3 linked regions of the Homo sapiens genome follow. The protein of the gene in region 2 purifies or fractionates together with the protein of the main gene of each other region. This does not show direct contact. Each region holds a gene or a part of one and is shown on either strand. Other genes may lie near its edges.

Evidence for each region.
Region 1: the proteins of FBXO22 (region 2) and KDM4A purify together in Homo sapiens (affinity purification with western blotting; 2 studies listed by BioGRID, with this or other methods). This does not show direct contact.
Region 3: the proteins of FBXO22 (region 2) and KDM4B purify together in Homo sapiens (affinity purification with western blotting; 3 studies listed by BioGRID, with this or other methods). This does not show direct contact.

What each region holds. Positions count from the first base shown.
Region 1 is NC_000001.11:43,702,087-43,706,075, reverse strand, and holds the end of KDM4A (lysine-specific demethylase 4A), read right to left. Parts: intron 3,421-3,989; exon of another isoform or gene 3,348-3,420; intron 2,513-3,347; exon of another isoform or gene 2,460-2,512; coding exon 2,340-2,459; intron 2,057-2,339; coding exon 1,964-2,056; intron 1,847-1,963; coding exon 1,706-1,846; 3' UTR 558-1,705; downstream 1-557. UniProt on the Homo sapiens protein: Histone demethylase that specifically demethylates 'Lys-9' and 'Lys-36' residues of histone H3, thereby playing a central role in histone code. Does not demethylate histone H3 'Lys-4', H3 'Lys-27' nor H4 'Lys-20'.
Region 2 is NC_000015.10:75,927,759-75,934,877, forward strand, and holds part of FBXO22 (F-box only protein 22), read left to right. Parts: intron 1-2,125; coding exon 2,126-2,291; coding exon of another isoform or gene 2,292-2,328; exon of another isoform or gene 2,329-3,109; intron 3,110-4,926; coding exon 4,927-5,344; 3' UTR 5,345-7,119. UniProt on the Homo sapiens protein: Substrate-recognition component of the SCF (SKP1-CUL1-F-box protein)-type E3 ubiquitin ligase complex that is implicated in the control of various cellular processes such as cell cycle control, transcriptional regulation, DNA damage repair, and apoptosis.
Region 3 is NC_000019.10:5,147,094-5,154,198, reverse strand, and holds the end of KDM4B (lysine-specific demethylase 4B), read right to left. Parts: intron 3,842-7,105; coding exon 3,749-3,841; intron 2,865-3,748; coding exon 2,688-2,864; 3' UTR 601-2,687; downstream 1-600. UniProt on the Homo sapiens protein: Histone demethylase that specifically demethylates 'Lys-9' of histone H3, thereby playing a role in histone code. Does not demethylate histone H3 'Lys-4', H3 'Lys-27', H3 'Lys-36' nor H4 'Lys-20'.

The sequences.
Region 1 (3,989 bases), on a different chromosome or scaffold from region 2:
TTCCCCATCCTTGTCCACTTTGACCTCAGGGATCTACCAGCCAAAGGAGATTGGGTCTTCCTCCAGGGAAGCTTCTCACCAACTAGACAGCTCGGAGAGCAATCTGAGGATCCCACTGGAGGTTGAGTCCCTTGCTTTTCAAGCACCTAAAATGCACCCATCCTTCCCACTGGTTCCACAATTTGTATAGAGCACAGATGCTGGCATGAACTTAGGCCAGTTCAACAAAGATGTATCAAATGGGGCAGCAGTGAGAGATACTCTGTTGAGAGGACTCATTGGTCTGGTGCTTCCTCTGTTACCTCATCTTGCCCGTCTCTAAGGCAGAGCAAGCACAACAAAGAGGTGCTCAGAGCCAGAAGTGTCCCTGCTCCCATGACCCACCATACTTGGCCTAATACAGAGCTTGACAAGCAAAGGACCCACTCTCTGGAACTTCCTAGGGAATGCCTTACTGATTTGTCTTAAAATACACAGCCCCGCTCCAGAGCCTATGACTCTAGATACACCCCCCAGCCTGACGTGGGCCACGTGGGCTCCTTGGGGCAGACAGCCAATCCTCTGCTCAACACATTTTATTGCTAAGGACAAGGTGATGCACCAGTTTTCAAAATAATTTGGTTTATAGTGTTCATACGTAACAAAAAAGGGGAAGTATTATAAATCTGATTCTTGTATACACAGGGTATTGGTGTGAAGCCCTCCAATCCTGGGCCCAGGCAAACAAATTCTTGAGGAGCAAAAACCTGTTTAACCCCTTCAGTATTGCCCTCTAGTCCCACCCCCCACCCCAAAATCAGCTCCCTCCCACCTACAGTGGGCCTCCAATGGCCCCAGTTTTTTCATCCTAACCCTCCCAGCCCCTGCATGATTGCAATTTTCTGTTGACAGAATCACCCACCAGGCTCTGCCTGCTTCCATCATTAAAATCCCCGATTCAGGGTAATCCCCACCCACACCCTGTAATACTTTGCCACAGGGGCTCTGCACCTAGAGTGTTGTGGGCACACACCCATGTTATCCCCATGTTCTCCTTTAGGGGAAGACAAAGAGGTGGCATCAGCTCCTTAGCATCTCAATACTGCAGCTTTGCCAGCACTGTCTTGAGACGGTTCCAGGCCTGGACAGATGCCACACCCATCTCCAGCCAACCCCCAGGAGCCCTTACTCAGCTCAGCTGAGGGCAGAATTTCACATTTTGTTTGCCCTGCATAGGCAAGGAAGAAAGTAAAGGCCAGGGGCTGGCAGAAGCTGGTCCAGACCAAACATACACGCACGCACGCACGCACGCACACACACACACACATATAAATACAAAAGTAGGGGTTGGGGCAAGTACCAGCACCTCAGCCTAGTCGGTGCAGGTGATAGTTATGAAGCTAAGTCCTAGGCCAGGAACAAGGCAGCCAGTCCAGCCAGCATAGTTGACCCCTCTATGGACTGGGGCCAGTGCAGCCACAGCATTCCAGTGCTCAGCCCCTCAGCTGGGAGATCAGCGACTGCTGCCACGTGCCCAGAAATGGCTCGTCCTTTCACTACAGCGGAATGCAATGAGGGTGGGTGAGAAGATGATGGGTCGGTTATTTCATTCCTTTTCTTTTTACAACTTCACTTTCAGAGACTTCAGCGTTCCATGTCTGCTGTGCTGTGGAACCCAGAGTGCTCTTGCCTGGATGGCTGAGAATCCCTTGGACCCTGGAAGCACCTACTCCATGATGGCCCGGTATAGTGCAGGCTCAATATAATCTTCCCGGTATCTTGAGTTGATAACTCGTTGCCGTTTCTTTTCTTGCTTAACCTCTTTCTCTGTGAAAATCTCATTGAAGCGCATGTCTGAGGCTACTGACTATAGAAGAATAAGCAAGCCAAGTGTCAGCTACCCCAGGAACAATACAAAGGGATGCATCCTTGACTTGTTCCCTCCCTCCAAGACAGGAACTGGGGGGACACAGAAAATACTCACCAGTCTAGATTTGACTCTCTTGGGAAGCTCTTCATCCAGTGTGTATACATCATCTCTCTTAACCACAAGTTGTGAGCCATCCTCAAACTCCACCTACCAAGGAAACAAAGGCCTTTTGGCTAGGATATCCCTGACTCTTTCCCTGGTCCACCATGCACAGTGGCAGTCCCCTACAGTCAAAGGAAGGAGTTAGAACACTAAAATAACAACTACCTTACTTCACATTTGGCAGACTGGAAACAGGGCAGACCCCTAGCTCTGAAAGGGTTACCAACCTATTAGTTCTCCTAAGAGCAAAGACTCGCCTCTGGCCCAACAGGAAGCACAGAATTAATCAAGCACCCCCCACTCCCTAGAAAGGTAGAACTTTGGATACCTGGTACATTTGGATAGGGTGGGAGGCCACAAACTTGGCTCCATAGACTTGGCCGTCTGTCCATCTCACTTGGACCACTTCCCCTTCAGCAGGAGGACCAAACTGGAGACAGTCCTGGCTCTGAGGAAACAGGAAGGAAGGAGGGTGAAAGGAACGTCCACCTGCACACAAAGGTAACTGTCCTCTACTCAGGGAAGAGTGAACCAGGACAAAGTAACTGTTTTAGAGAGCAAGGCAGCTCTCTGGGCTGAAAAATGTTAACAGTTAAAGACCTTGCTAAGTCAAAGTCTGCCCCTATCTCTGCCCTCTCCTGCTTCTAGGTGACCAAAAAAAAAAAAAAAATCCAGCTATAACAAACTTAGTAAACACAGGAGTTAAGTGCCAGAATCAAGAGTCCTTCTTACATTCCCTCAACTGTTCCCCTGCGGGTTCTCCAGGGCTCTGCCATGAAGAAATACTAGAACCATACTCAACTATAAGACATGTGTTTTTTTTGGCCAGGCACGGTGGCTCATGCCTGTAATCGCAGCACTTTGGGAGGCTGAGGCAGGCAGATCACCAGGTCAGGAGATCAAGACCATCCTGGCTAACATGGTGAAACCCCATCTCTACTAAAAATGCAAAAAATTAGCCAGGTGTGGTGGCAGGCGCCTGTAGTCCCAGCTACTCGGGAGTCTGAGGCAGGAGAATGGTGTGAACCCAGGAGGCGGAGCTTGCAGAGAGCTGAGATCACGCTGGAATACAGTGGCCTGATCTTGGCTCATTGCAACCTCAGCCTCCTGGGTTCTAGCAATCCTCCTGCCTCAGCCTCCCGAGTAGCTGGGACAACAGGCACGTGCCACCATGCCCAGCTAATCTTTGTATTTTTAGTAGAGACGGGGTTTCACCATGTTGGCCAGTCTGGTCTCGAACTCCTTACCTCAGGTGATCTGCCTGCCTCGGCTTGCCAAAGTGGTGGGATTACAGGCATGAGCCACTGTGCCCAACCAAGAAATATGTTCTTAACAGGAAAGATGAAAAAGAGTCACCTACCATGGGACCTGGCAAAGTACTTCAGAACTTTTATTCCTTCCAGAAGCAGGTAAGTACCCCAAGTCCTCATCGTATTCCCAGCATAGGGCTTGGTATACGGGGGGATATTTCATTCAGCATATTGGCTGAATGAAAGGTCTGATAGGTATACCTGGGAGAAGGTCCTTAGGGACATGGCTTAAAAAATGAGAGAGGGGCAGGGCAGTGAGTCTAAAAGGATGTGGATGCTCACATCTGCTCTTACAATCATGCTACAGTTCATTTATTGAGTGGAAACAGTTCCCTACTTATTGACAATTCATTTACTGAATAGGTAATCAGTAAATACATTTTGTATCAATCTAACAATTAGGCATAAACTACAGCCTCCTACACCCAATATCTGAGGTGTTCTAAGATTTAACTACTCAAATGTTTGATATTTGATAAATTGTTTAAGTTCTCTGCAATTCAGTTCCACCTCCTATAACAGCACTTCTGAAAATGTGGTCTGTGAACCTCTGAGGGGTTCCTGAGACACTGTCAGGGAGCAAGTGAGACATGGCTATTTTTATAATATTAAACTATTAGCCTTTGTCACTGTGTTGTCATTTACCTAGGATAGGTACAACTGCTGGC
Region 2 (7,119 bases):
TTCCCAGAATAGGTCATTATTTGGTGTTAGTAATTGGTCATTCACGCATCTGCATACCCTTTGTTTCCTTAAGTAACTCTCCTTTCTGGTAACCACCTTAGGTTTGTCAAGGTGGAAGTCATGTGGTCAAATCAAATGGAAACACAAGTGTGTTAGGTATTAGATTCATTTTCCTGTCCCCAAAGCACCCGTTTGGTAATGCTGGCAGAAGACATACATGCGGCCAACAATCATAGGAAAAAAAGCTCCACATCACTGATCATTAGAGAAATGCAAATCAAAACCACAATGAGATCGTATCCCATACTAGGCAGAATGGCTATTAAAAAGTCAAAAAATAACAGATGCTGGCAAGTTTGTGGAGAAAAAGGAACACTTATACACTGTCGGTGGGAGTGTAAATTAGTTCAGCCATTGTGGAAGATAGTGTGGTGATTCCTCAAAGACCTAAAGACAGAAATACCATTTGACCCAGCAGTCCTATTACTGGGTATATATTCAAAGGAATATAAATTATTCTGTTATAAAGACACATGCACATGTATGTTCATTGCAGCACTATTCACAGTAGCAAAGACATGGAATCAACCTGAATGCCCATCAGTGATAAACTGGATAAAGAAAATGTAGTACATATGCAGCCATAAAAAAGAATGAGATCACGTCCTTTGCAGGGACATGGATGGAGCTGGAGGCCATTATCATTAGCAAACTAACACAGAAACAGAAAACCAAATACTGCATGTTCTCATTTATAAGTGGGAGCTAAATGATGAGAATACATCGACGCAAAGAGGGGCACAACAGACACTGGGGCCTACCAGAGGGTGGAGGGTGTGAGGAAGGAGAGGATCAGGAAAAATAACTAATGGAGAATGGGCTTATTACCTGGGTGATGAAATAATCTGCACAACAAACCCCCATGACACACGTTTGCCTGTGGAACAAACCTGAACATGTATCCCTGAACTTAAAAAAAAAATCAAATTGATAGTCTATAAACAAGCTGCCAGAGGCTCCAGTGAAACCTGGGAGCTGTGGGCAGAGCAAGTAGGCTGTCTCTGTTACACTCTGCCACCTCCTAGCGGTAGCAGCTTTTAGTTCCTGTGTCACAGAATTGAACATTTTCCTGCTTTGCAAGGAACTTTCAAAGGCTAATTCGCCTTTACTCTCACCTGCTTCCGTGGAGGAGGTGAATAAAGCCTGTATTTCAGTGATGTAGTAGTTTCTTAGGCTGCTGTAACAAAGTACCCCAAATTTGGTGACATAAAACGAGAAATTTATTCTGCACAGTTCAGGAGGCCAGAAGTCTGAAATTGAGATGGCAGTAGGGGTAGTGCTACCTTGGGAGGCTGTAGGGGAGAGTCTGTTCTTTTTCTCTTCCTACCGCTCCAGTTTCTGCTTCTGTGGTCACACTGCCTTTTCTTCTCTGTCTCTCCTTTGTACATCTTTCATTATGAGGACACTGTCATTGGATTTAGAGCCCACGTGGATAGACCAGATGATTTAATCTTAAGATCCTTACTAACATAGCGAGACCCCATCTCTACCAAAAAAAAAAAAATTTTTTTTAAAGATCCTTTTTCCAAATAAGCTTACATGCATAGGTTCCAGAGGTTTGATGTGGATATACCTTTGGCATGGGCAGGGGGCACTGTTCACCACACTATAAGTGGTTAGCGCCTTTTCTCTCCTTTAAAAAATAAAAAATCTGTAAATTCTCACTGCTGCTAGCACAGCTCTGTGTAAACCAGTGTTTTTTTTTTTTTGTTCCCTACTGAGAGCCAGCTTGCACCTTGGTCTACCAAGAGTTGCTGCTCAGTACATAGCTGCTTCATTATTTGTGTTGATTGCATTATTTATTAACACAAATAGCCATTTAGTTTTTTTAATAGAAAAAATAATTAAGATTTTGCATAATGTTTGTAAAAAATGGAAAACTTGATACAGAGATCGAAGAGGATATAAAATAAGATAAAAAATAAAAAATGGAAAATTTGATAGCTTAAGCCACTAAATTGCCCTTAAGGTGGAGTGCAAGTCAGTAACATTTCATTTTGCAGCATGTATAAAATAATTTCTGTTTTAAGGCTGTCTTTAACTGTTGCTCTTCATTTCTCTGCAGGTCTTTTAGATAACCCTGAACTTCGTGTGGTCCTTGTCTTTGGTTATAATTGCTGTAAGGTGGGAGCCAGTAATTATCTGCAGCAAGTAGTCAGCACTTTCAGTGATATGAATATCATCTTGGCTGGAGGCCAGGTGGACAACCTGTCATCACTGACTTCTGAAAAGTATGTCTTGTGTGCTTCTGATTTCGTCTGTGAATGAAGGGAAATGGTCTCAGGTTTTGTCACTTTGGGGTTAACAATTTAAAAAACGTGTTTAAAGAATTATTAAGATAATAGTTCATTCCATTTTGTAGTAGACATTGGCTAAGGGGCTTACTGAACATAATTCTGCTTACGGTTGAATAATTACATTTTTATATATATTGTCCTTCAAGAACTTCCTTGAGTCACATTCTCCTTAAAATTTGACATTGCCTGTTGATCTTTCCTTTGACAGATGTGGTACTCTGTGTGACCTCAATGTGTCACCTCCTTTCTAGTTTCCTCCTTTAAAGGAAACACATGGTTAGAGTGTATCTTTATGGCAAAACTTCTCAGAGCTTCTAATATGCCCAGTGCTGTGGAAATCTGGAAGGAGAATAGCATTACCTGTGACAGTTCCCAAATGTGTTTGGTCACAAAACTTTTTTCCACAGAATGTCTTGCAAGTCGTACTGGTTTTTGGAAATTCTGTATTAGATCTTTTGAAAGGCTTTTTCAAGCTTAAAAATTGTGGATCTTTTTTGTTACTAAGGCTTTTGCTTTCAAAGATAAAAATATTTGCTCTTCTGTCTTGGGAGCCATTACTTCCTTTCCATCTTGAATGAAAATACATATCATTTTGAGTTTGAAACAATTAGGTGGACATAAATATCATTTGTTTCCAGCAGGAAAATCAGACCCTACCCCACCCTCAATGCTTGTAAACACTACTATTTGTTTCCCACTCTGTTTAATATTTGCATCCTAGAGTGGTGACATGGGGACAGACTGTTGCAGATCAGTATCTATAAGAATAATGTAAGTCATCCTAGTTATAGTCTCTCTTCTGGTTATCTCTATGAGCTAGATCTGGGAAAATAGCTAAAGTTGAGGTCCCTGGACTGCCAGGGAGGAGGAAGAGAGGAAGGCCAAGTACGTTGAATCCCAGGCAGGATATCAAACACTGGATTTTGTGCATACATACACTGAATTCTTGGTGGCTATCTAAGTTATTTCCCCTCTTGCCTAATTTTTCCTGTGTCTTTGCTATTAACTTAAATTGTGTACGGATAGGGCAATGGTGATTCAACATACAGTTTACCTTTGAAATGCAGATACCTCACTCAGACTTATAACATCTGAGGTGCTAGCTTGTAAGTGTAGCTATTTGTATATCATCTACTTTTTATACCTAATAAGAGAAACACCCCCCACCCCAATCATTACTCTTCACATGACCCATTAATTTTAATGTGGTCTTCATACTCTGTCAGTGGTTAAGAGAAACCATTGAGTAAATGAGGGCTCCATTTTAATAAAGTCCAGATAACCCAACTGACCCAGTGCCCCAAAAGGAAGATGTATAATTCTTTGAGGCAAGATTGACAATGTATATTAACAATTCTGTACCAAAGAGGAAATGTGATAAAGTTTTAAGAGCAGCAGAGGACTTCAGAAGACGGATTTTGCCCCTCACAAACTTGTTTTACTACTAGCTAGCCTTATTACTTTAGTCACTTAACCTTTTTGCGTCTTAGTTTCTCACTAATCCAGTGACTCTTGCCCATTTTATAGATTCAGATGTTGGAAGCATGATACAATACTTGTTTATCCCCTAGTGGATGTTCACTATATTATGCTTTATTACTTTTATCAATGTTGTATTTTCTTTTGTAAGGATATTTCATTTTTTAAAAAAACCAGGCAAATATAAACAAAAACAAAGCATGAGTTTTTACCATCAAATTAAGCTGAACTCTAGACTCAAAGCAATAAACAAGACAAAAAAATAACATAATCATATTTTCTAGTGGACTAGACATAAAGCTAAAACTTCTAGAGTTAATAGGTTTTTAAAATTATCCTCTGAGTGCAGTGGCTCATGCCTGTAATCCCAGAACTTTGGGAGGCTGAGGCAGGAGGATTGCTTGAGCCCAGGAGTTTGAGACCAGTCTGAGCAACATAGTGAGACCCTATCTCTACAAAATGTTTACAGATTAGCCAGGTGTGGTGGCATGTATCTGTAGCCCCAGCTCCTTGAGAGACTCAGGCAGGAGGATTGCTTTATCCCACGAGTTTGAGGCTGCAGTGAGCTATGATTGTGCCACTGCACTTCAGCCTAGCTAACAGAGAACCCTATCTCTAAAAAAATAAAATCACCCTCCATTATTATATTTTTAATATACATCTTTCAGAATTTGACAGCTGAAGTCGGGGGGAAGAGATGTTAATGTAAACAATAGCAGAAGGCTTCGTTTAGTGGATATCTTTGTGTATATTAATAAAATTATAACATTCCTTTTAAGGAAGTCAGAAAGGTAAGGAAACTGTACTTTCTAATAACCGGATATGGGTTTCAGAAATCGTTATGGATGTGCATTGCCCCTTTGTATTTGTGACTGAAAAAAATGGTGGCTTCTCTTGATCTGCCTTGTGCATTTTTTATGTATTAATTTTGATTTTTGACCCTATTTTACTCACCTATGAGGGTGAGCCTCAGATTAACCATAGGCTGCTAAAGGCAGCAGCCTCCCGTCAGTGAATCAGGAGGATTTTGCTTCTATACTTAAAAATTTTAATGTTTCATGAGATATTGCCACTTTTCTAAATTTTCCAGGAACCCTCTGGATATTGATGCCTCGGGTGTGGTTGGACTGTCATTTAGTGGACACCGAATCCAGAGTGCCACTGTGCTCCTCAACGAGGACGTCAGTGATGAGAAGACTGCTGAGGCTGCGATGCAGCGCCTCAAAGCGGCCAACATTCCAGAGCATAACACCATTGGCTTCATGTTTGCATGCGTTGGCAGGGGCTTTCAGTATTACAGAGCCAAGGGGAATGTTGAGGCTGATGCATTTAGAAAGTTTTTTCCTAGTGTTCCCTTATTCGGCTTCTTTGGAAATGGAGAAATTGGATGTGATCGGATAGTCACTGGGAACTTTATATTGAGGAAATGTAATGAGGTAAAAGATGATGATCTGTTTCATAGCTATACAACAATAATGGCACTCATACATCTGGGGTCATCTAAATAATAATTAAAGTGGCTTTCATAATATGTAACTTTTGGGTTCTGCCTTTTTCAGAAAATGGAAACTTGGGCCATGTGTATTTCAAACAAAAATAACTTTAGATATATCTTTTTTGTAGCTTTGATTGATGCTCTAAGATCACATGAGGGTAGTATTTAATATATTAGATGAAGGACAACTTTGGACATAACACTGACTAGGAGTTGAGAGCTTTTGCATCAGGCAGAAGCAAACTGATTATAGTTGTGTTGCACCAGATCATGTAGCTGCTGTGTAACATGACCTTAAATAGTCTTCCTGCATAGGAAGAGCAAAAGGGTATTCATCAATAGGATATAGATTTAAGACATTCCCTGACTACCCCTTGCGTTGTTAGGTGATGTCTTTTAGCAGAATCATGAAGACCTTTTTTCTCCCTTAATAAAGGAGAAAAATATACTGATGGCTGGAGAAATTTTTCTCTGCCTTTCAGTTTTATGAATTTTTTCAGAAGTAACAATATTATTATTGACTTTTTACTTATTTGATAAAAATTAAAGAACTATTTTTGTTTTGGTCAGATAAATTGACAAGACTAATCAGTATTTTATTATAAGTAAAAGATTTTTCTTCTTTCCTTAAAAATATTTTTTTTTCACCTAGGTCTAAATAGCTAACTAACTGGTAGACCAGAGTATTACATCATCTTATTTTGGTTTTATACCAATAAAACATAGCGTGGAACTCATTCAGGTAATGTTTTGCATTTCATTGCTTTTGGATGAACAAAGGAAGTAAACTAATCCTTTATAAATGAAAACCCAGAATAGTTGGTATGTCAGCTAGTCATTCCTGTCATATTCCCAGTAGAATGATTTTCAAGTTTGAATTTCTGTACAAATATCTAAATAAGAGATGTGCAGAGAGCACCAATTTTCCTTCAATATCCATTCTTTACTTTTCACATAATGATAGAACCTTTGATTTTTCAAGTGGGTATGCCTCCTAGAATAAAGACTACATTTCCCAGTCTCCTGTGCAGGTATGACTGTGTTCTGGACAATGGAATGTGAGGGGAAACGATTTTTTGTGTCCTTAAAATGGCATGACCATTTATTTGCCCCTTTCTCCATCCTGTTGCTTGGAATGTGGATCTGGTAGTGAGCCATCTTGGACCCTGAAGAGGAGGCAACACACCATTGTAGAAGAAAAACAACAGAAGGATCCTGGTCCCTGTACGACCTCATTGAAGAAACACCATAAGTGGCGTGGACTATCTACCTCCAGACTGTTTTACAAGAGAGAAATTAGCATATTCCATCTAATACAGTATGATGTAACTAATGTTACTTTTGTAACAGTCAGTGGTTTGTTCTAACAGGACAGTAGAACACTTGCAAGGTAAGTAAAACCAAATGTATTAGCATTATTCCTGCTTTTCCTTTTTTGTCACTTTTATCCTTTTTTTAAAACTGAAAATATTTTTCTCTTGCTATTTATATATATATGATAAAAATGCTTGGAAGAGTCCTTTAATTTATGGTTATTCTAAATCCTAGTTCCTGAGGCAAGTCCAAAGAAAAATTTGTCAAAACTTTTCATCTATGAATATTTATATTTAGCTCTTGCTATTTAGCTATTATCAAAATACCTCAAAATTTTAGTCCTTGAATGTGCTCATATAGCCCATAAGGCAAATATTTTTTAAACTTTATTGTCCCTGATATTAACCAGAATTGGTTGAATAGTAGAGGAAAAGGGATTTTTAAAACTGAAAATATGAACAAAATGAGCCTTAG
Region 3 (7,105 bases), on a different chromosome or scaffold from region 2:
CTCCCCCTCTCCCCTGCCTCCCTCTGCTCCAGCCACAGGGGCCTCTTCATGTTCTTGCCGCACACCAGGCACAGGAGGGTCACCTCCCTGAGGGAGGCTCAGGTCTCCCGTGTCCCCTCTGCCGACTCCAGGCCTGGTGGGGCTGGGCACTGAGTGACCCAGGCCAGGACTGCTGGGTCCCAGTGGCCATCCAGGGCCGTGAGCCCCAGCGCCTAGCACGTCTGCCAGCCACCACCACCACAAGCAATGCTCTCGGGGCTCAGATGTAACCAGAACCGGATGGGGGACAGGGACAGGGCAGCTGCTGGCTGGGACGAGTGAGGCCAGGGCCAGGCCTCCAGAGAACTGAGGGGGAATCATGGGGTCCGCTGCCCCAGCCACCCAGCCTGGCCACAGCATGAGGGGCATGACAGCTGCCCCTGGGTGTGTGGGGGTGTGTTGGGGACCCTGGAGAGTGGGAGGGGAGGGACATCCAGCTCTGGAAGCAAACCTTCTCCCGGGAGAACGGGGCGCAGGCAGCCCCACCCCAGGGAGGCCCCAACATCAGTCCCCCTAGCACAGGCTCAGAAATGAAGACACTTGCCGGGGCATGGAACGGGGTTTCGCAGCGTTCATGAACCTTTAATTCATTATGAACCTAGAGGCAGGGACATTAGGCAAAAAATACAGCGTATCCTTCATCTCGGGTGGGGAAAAACCAGGGCACTGGGTTTTGCCGCGTCTTTGCACAGAGTAAGACACAGAGATACCTTCGTGGGGAGAGTGTGCAGCTCCGGCCTGCCCTTCTGTGGCCCATCTGCGCAGGCCGCCCAGGAGCCCACCAGGGGATGGGTGTGACCCCCAAGGGACAAGGGCAGCAGGGGCACCCGCCCGCTTCTTTACAATATAAATAGCATTTTCAAACAACATAAGAATACAGTGTCAGCGCCACGCCGGGCGAGGGCTGCGTGCAGAGGGACACCTCCACGTTTTGGCTGACACCCCCCAACCTCCCCGACCCCGGCCCTCTCCAGGGCAACCGCCCCCCTCCCCCACCAAGGAAATGAAAGGCTTGCTCCTGCGTAACACTCTCTCTGTTTTCCTTAGTCCTCTCTAGCCCGGGGACTGTTAGGACACTCTTTTATAATATAAACATTGCTTTTTTTTTTTTTTGGAGACAGGGTCTCGCTCTGTTGCCCAGGCTGGAGTGCAGTGGTGCAATCTGAGCTGACTGCAGCCTCAACCTCCTGGACTCAAGCAATCCTCCCACCACAGCCTCCCGAGTAGCTGGGACCACAGGTGCGCACCACCACACCTAGCTAATTTGTAAAAAATTTGTAGTGATGGGGTCTTGCTATATAGCCCAGGCTGGTCCCAAACTCCTGCCTCAGCCATTTTTTGTTTTTAATATAAGCAAATTATCTCCTCCATCCCTCCCTGGGGCAGGAGACAGCTAAGGTGGGGAAGGCTCCCCAGAGGGGTGCAGAGCTGGTGAGGGAGAGGCACCTGGAGAAGGCGCTTCCCAGCCTGGGCTGAAGGCCGTTTTTTCTCTATCAGCTCAACCCACTCCTAAGAAGCAGATTCCCCTCAGGTGACAGCAGCGTGGGTGGGTGGAGCGAGGACACCAGGCCTCGTCCCTGCCCGGAAGCAGGCGAAAGGGGCCCCGAAGGCCTGCCTCGGCCCTGTGTCCCCCGACCTGCTCAGGGTTGTACCCGAAGAGCTGGGAAGCTGTCCACACTCACTACCAACCAGAAGGGCCTGGGGGCCTCCCTCATCCTGAGCCATAGGAGGTGCAGGGGTGCTTTGTCTGCAAGGAAGCCTCTGGAACACCTGCGTTTCTCTCAGGTGAGAGAAACAAAGATAGACAAACCCCAGGAGAGAGTTTATTCTGCAAAGGTGGGCGCAGACGGAGGGAGGCCCCAGACCCCCGGGCTTCCCCTGGCCAGGTGCACAGGGGCGGCCACCAGAGAGCCTGGGCCTCCTCCCAGCAGGCACAGAGTGGGCACAGGCACTGGCACCAGACCATCAAAGCCCAGGAGCCGGGGTGAGGCGAGAGCGAGGCCGTGAGTGACCGGGCTGTGCCGAAACCGGGGCGTCCTGCCCCCCCCCCGAGGCTCACCCTCCAATTACCGGGTCTCTTTCCCTGCCTGGTCTGTAGCCAAATCATAATATTTTAAAACAACAACAAAAAAACAGCGAGATGCTCTGACCTCTCAGAGAATCCTGGTTCTGAGAAAAACAATGTGTTTGTTTTGTTTTGTTTTTCTTAAAGCCACAAATCTAGAAAACAACTTTGGGGATATTTTCCTTTGTTTTCCTTTTTTTCTTGCTTTTTTTTAAACAATATGTATTTATAGAAAGAGCCTCACAAAGGTGGTTTATGTACAGAAGTGACAATCTCAAAGGTTGCTCAGTAGGGCATTGCAGTAGCACCTTTTCGAGAAGAAGAGAGCTTACATGGTTTAAAATTCTGAGTAGTTGAGTGGGGTGCTCCCCTGGCCGGCCCCCGAGCCCGCCTGGCCCTGCTCCCTGAGTCTGGGGCCGCGTGCGGCGTCCCGCTGGCTCCTGTCGCCCTAGGGGGCACCCGCGGCTTGGAGGTGGCCTCTCGGGGGTCGGGGACACGAGGACAGGAATTCACAGCAAGCGAACGCCCGGGGCATGCCATGGCCTCCCCGCCGGGCTGAGGGTCGCCTGAGCGGCCAGCTGTCCTAGAAGGGGGCTCCGGGCCGGCCCTGCACCTGCAGGAGGCTCTCCACGAAGGCCACGTAGTCCTGGCTCCGCCCGGAGTCCTCCGTGGCAAGCGGGGTGCCCACACGCGGGCGCTTGGCGGCCTTGGCCTCCTCCCCCGAGAAGGCGGGCTCCTGCGGTGCCCCCGTGCTCAGTGACTGCGGGAGAGCGGAAGCACAGTGGTTAGCACGGTGGAGACACTCTGTGCGGCCCCAGCCACTGTCTATGGCCTCTGAGAGGAGCTGGCTGGACACAGAGCCCTGATTGCTGTGGGGGCTGCTCAGCAGGCTCCTGTTTTCGTGTTTGTAAACCCCTGATCCTGCCAGCAGAGGGGCCCTGCACTCGGCCCCAGCCTCTGGCCCCCTAGTGGGGTGGGCACCCTGGCTGGGGCTGGGACCGTCCATCTGGCAGCTCCCATCTGTTTTCCGAGGGACCCCTCTGCGGCTGAGCAGCTGTGGCCAGGACCAGGAACCTCCCCCACGGGCTCTGCCCCTCAACACCTCGCCTCTCGCCTCTCGATTAGAAAGAGAATAAAGGAAGCCCATGAGGGCTGGGGGAGCGAAAGCTGGAGCTGCCTCCGCTGCCTCCAGGACTCAGGCTCCCGTTTAATAAGGAAAAACCTCAGGAAAAGCTTTTTTAAGCCGACAACTGGGGTGCCCGTACTTCGCCTGTACCCCAAAACCTGTGATGGTTCAGAGGCCGCCCTGTGCAGGGTGGGGCAGCGCGGGTCCTGCAGGGCACAGGGGGCTGGGAGGGTCTGTTCTGCATTCGTGATAAGGGGAGGGGCGGGGCTTCTCCAACCCTCCCTCCCCACATTAACGGCATCGCCCAGGAGCTGCGGCACCAGGAGTCAAGGCAAAGGAAGGGTCTCCTGCCAGGAGCCCATGGACCAGCTGTGCTGGGGCGGCCGGGACCCCCTTCCAGCAGAGGTGCAAGAGGAGGGGGTGGTCCACGCCATTGGAAGACGCAGTCTGTGCCCTGCCTCGTCCCAGACGGGCTCCCTGAGTCACCCGGAGCCACCAGGCCAGCCTCGCGCACTCACCAGCCGAGAGCGGACCCTCTTGGGCAGCTCCTCCTCCAGGGTGAAGATGTCCCCACGCTTCACCGTCAGCTGGGACCCGTCCTCAAACTCCACCTGCAGGGGGATGTGGCTCTCAGGGGCCTGGCACTGCCAGGATGGCAGGTGCTCCAGGCAGGCCACGGCCTCAAGAGCTGGGAGGCCAGCCCCCTTGGGTGCATGGGGCCCGCTAGAGGCCACATGCAGCCAAGCTGAAGCTCATGTCCACCTCTGACACCGCCTGCAGCAAACAAGGATCAGGCTGAGGGTCCCGTACCACGGGGCAAGGATGACGGAGGACGGGACAGCCTGGGGCAGAGGCAGGGCCCCGCAGCTTCCACATGGAGACAGAACACTCACCCCTCACCTCCTCCCAGCTCAAAAGACATCTGTCTCCATGAAGACACAGCCCCAGGACAAGGTGACAGAGTCACTGGTGGACACAGAGCCAGGCAGGAGGCGCAGTGCCCTAACAGGGCCTGGGAGGCAGGGGAGGCCGGACAGGCGGACTCAGGGGCCTGAGCTCAGGAGCCCCCAACCAGAAGGTGAAGGACAGGGTCCCTGGCTTATGTGTGGCCCTCTGAAAACAGCTCAGTCACCTCTTCCCTTCAACTCAGAGAAAAATCACCCCCTTCCAGCCTCCCCAGCTGGTGCCTTGTTCCAGGTGGCAGATGCCTGACTGGTGAGGGGCACTGGGAGCACCCCGCTTCCTCCTCGTTAAGCTTGGTGCCAGCTCAGGCTCGCGGAGACTCTCTCAGGGGCCCTCTGGCAACACAACACTGTCCCATGAAGGGCGTGCCAGGGAGGGGCGTGTCTCCAGGCCCACCTCATAACTGCGATGGGCGCCGTGTTCCCAAGCCAGGAAAGGTGCTGGGGTCACTCCCTGGGCCTGACTGCCGTTCTGCTCCAGGGGGAGAAGGTTCCCATATCAGAGGGCTCGCTTTTCACATTTAAAAACTCAAAACAAGCCAGGCATGGTGGCATGTGCCTGTGGTCCCAGCTACCCAGGAGGCTGAGGTGGAGGCTGTAGTGAGCTCTAATTATGTCACTGCACTCCAGGCTGGGTGACAGATCAAGACCCCGTCTCAAAATGAACAAAATGCACACATAAGACTGTCACAGAAGCGTACAAAAGTCACACACTAAGACCATGACGGAAGTGTATAAAAGTCACACAGTAAGACCATCGCGGAAGTGTGTCTGGGGCTAGACGCCCCACGTAGTGTGCAGCGGGGGGGCCCGGGATCGCAGCACCTCCCTCTCCAAGGGAGCACAGACCCTGCCTTGGGGCAGCCAAGCCTGCCGGTCCCTGTGACTCCTCCAGGGATGGGTGGGGATGGAGACAGACGTAGGCCCTGGAGCAAGTGTCTGCTGTGGGTTCCACATGCCTCTTGGCCGGCGCAGGCGGCGGGAGAAGCAGGGCTGGGAGTGCCCAGTGTGGACTCTCAGATGGCCGGTTGCCTCTGGGCCGTGTCCTGGGACGACAGCACACATCTCTCGGGGATGTGTGGAGGAGCCTGCTGGGAACCAAGGACATGGGTGCCACCCTCTGCCCCGTCCTACCCATCTCATTTGTAGAGGAAAGCCACCGGGAGAAGGCCCCTTCCCAGCGTCTGTCCGGTGAGGAGAGTCTGGGTGAAGGAGTCCTAGTGTCGGAGCCCCAGCACCCCGGAAAGCGATTTCCACCCCCGGCGTGGCCAGGCTCCGCTTTGCCACGGGCAGCAGCGGGTTTTGGAGGCTCCGCTTTGCCAAGGGCAGCAGCGGGTTTTGGAGGCTCCGCTTTGCCACGGGCAGCAGCGGGTTTTAGAGCTCCCACTGCAGGAGTCCCAGGGCCCACCTGCTGCCTTTCCCCAGCTCCCCGGCCCCGACTCGGCCTCTCGGCTTCTGGCAGGCGTGGCACACAGTGATTCAGTCAGGCACAGAAGCAGCCTTGCCAGGAGGGGAAGGCGCGTTCTAGAAACTCAGTGGAAACTGGCTCAGGTTTCTGGGTCAGGAAGACTGCAGAGATCCGCCCCAGATTCTCAGGAGCACAGAACCGCCTAGGAGGATGGCGCTCACACTGCCGGGTCCAAGTGGGCTCCAGGGAAACTTCTGTGCCTGGGTCATTTGGGAACTGGGGGCTGACTGGAGACTCAGGCTGATTTCCTCCCAGTGGCCTCCCTGGAACGTGCTTTCACTATGAGTCTCCACAGGGCGAGTTCTGAAGGCGGCGTTTGCTTTTTAACATTTTGAGAAAACTGGATATACTTGCAGCTACAGGAAATCAGAGGCGTGCGCCTCGGCCCGGGCTCCCTGTGGTGACGTCTTGCCCGGCACGTCTCAGAAGCATCTCGAGGGGTCACGTGCGAGGGAAACATGTTCCAAGTGTTCCGGACAGGCGGGGAGGCTCTTGGGGCCTTGGCATGTGGGGGTCTCAGCCACTCGGCCTCGCTGTCACCTGGGCCCACCCCAGCCACCCGCCCCGCTGACCAGGCCCTTGGCCTCGGGGCAGGCAGCTCCAGCCCCATCTCCTTGGCCACCACACAGCGGGCGTTTGCATGATTGTGTGATCGAGGTCCTGCCGCCACCTCGCAGGCAGGCGCGCACTCCACGGTGGCTTGCTGGCTTCCGATACCACCCATTCCTGATTCCACAGCCTCTGCCCCCCCGCCCCGAGCACTCTGGAAATGTGACTTTTTTTTTTTTTTTTTTTTGAGACAGGGCTTTGTTTCATCACCCGGGTTGGAGTGCAGTGGCGCGATCTTGGATCACTGAATCCTCAACCTCCCAGGCTCAAGTGATCCTCCCACCTCAGCTTCCCAAGTAGCTGGGACTAAAGGTGCGTGCCACCATGCCCAGCTAATTTTGTTTTTTTGTAGAGACAGGGTTTTGCTGCGTTGCCCAGGCTGGTCTCGAACCCCTGTGCTCAAGCGCTCTGCCCACCTCAGCCTCCCACAGTGCTGCGATCACAGCATGAGCCCCCGCGCCTGGCTGGCATCATCTCATTTCTGACTGTCTCATTAGCTCGGCTTCCTTGAGGTGAGCTCCCCTGACGCTGGCCCTGCCTGGGCTCTGGTGACATGACAATGATCCTGGGAGCACTTCCTTCGCCACCAGGGTGGGGGCTGCGTCAGCGCCTCTTCTGTGGGATGTTGTCAAGACCCACCCTGAGTCTCCCTTGTCATTTTCCACCACAGTTGTGCTCTGTGTACGTTATAAATGGCTATTTATCTATTTGTGTGTTTTCTATCATCTCCATAGGTTTCTTGAGGGAGGGAGAGAGACTGGCACATGCTCAGCCTGATCTCTGGAGTAAACTTCCATGGTGTTCTAGAGGTCCTGGCTCAACCTCCCCTCCTCGGA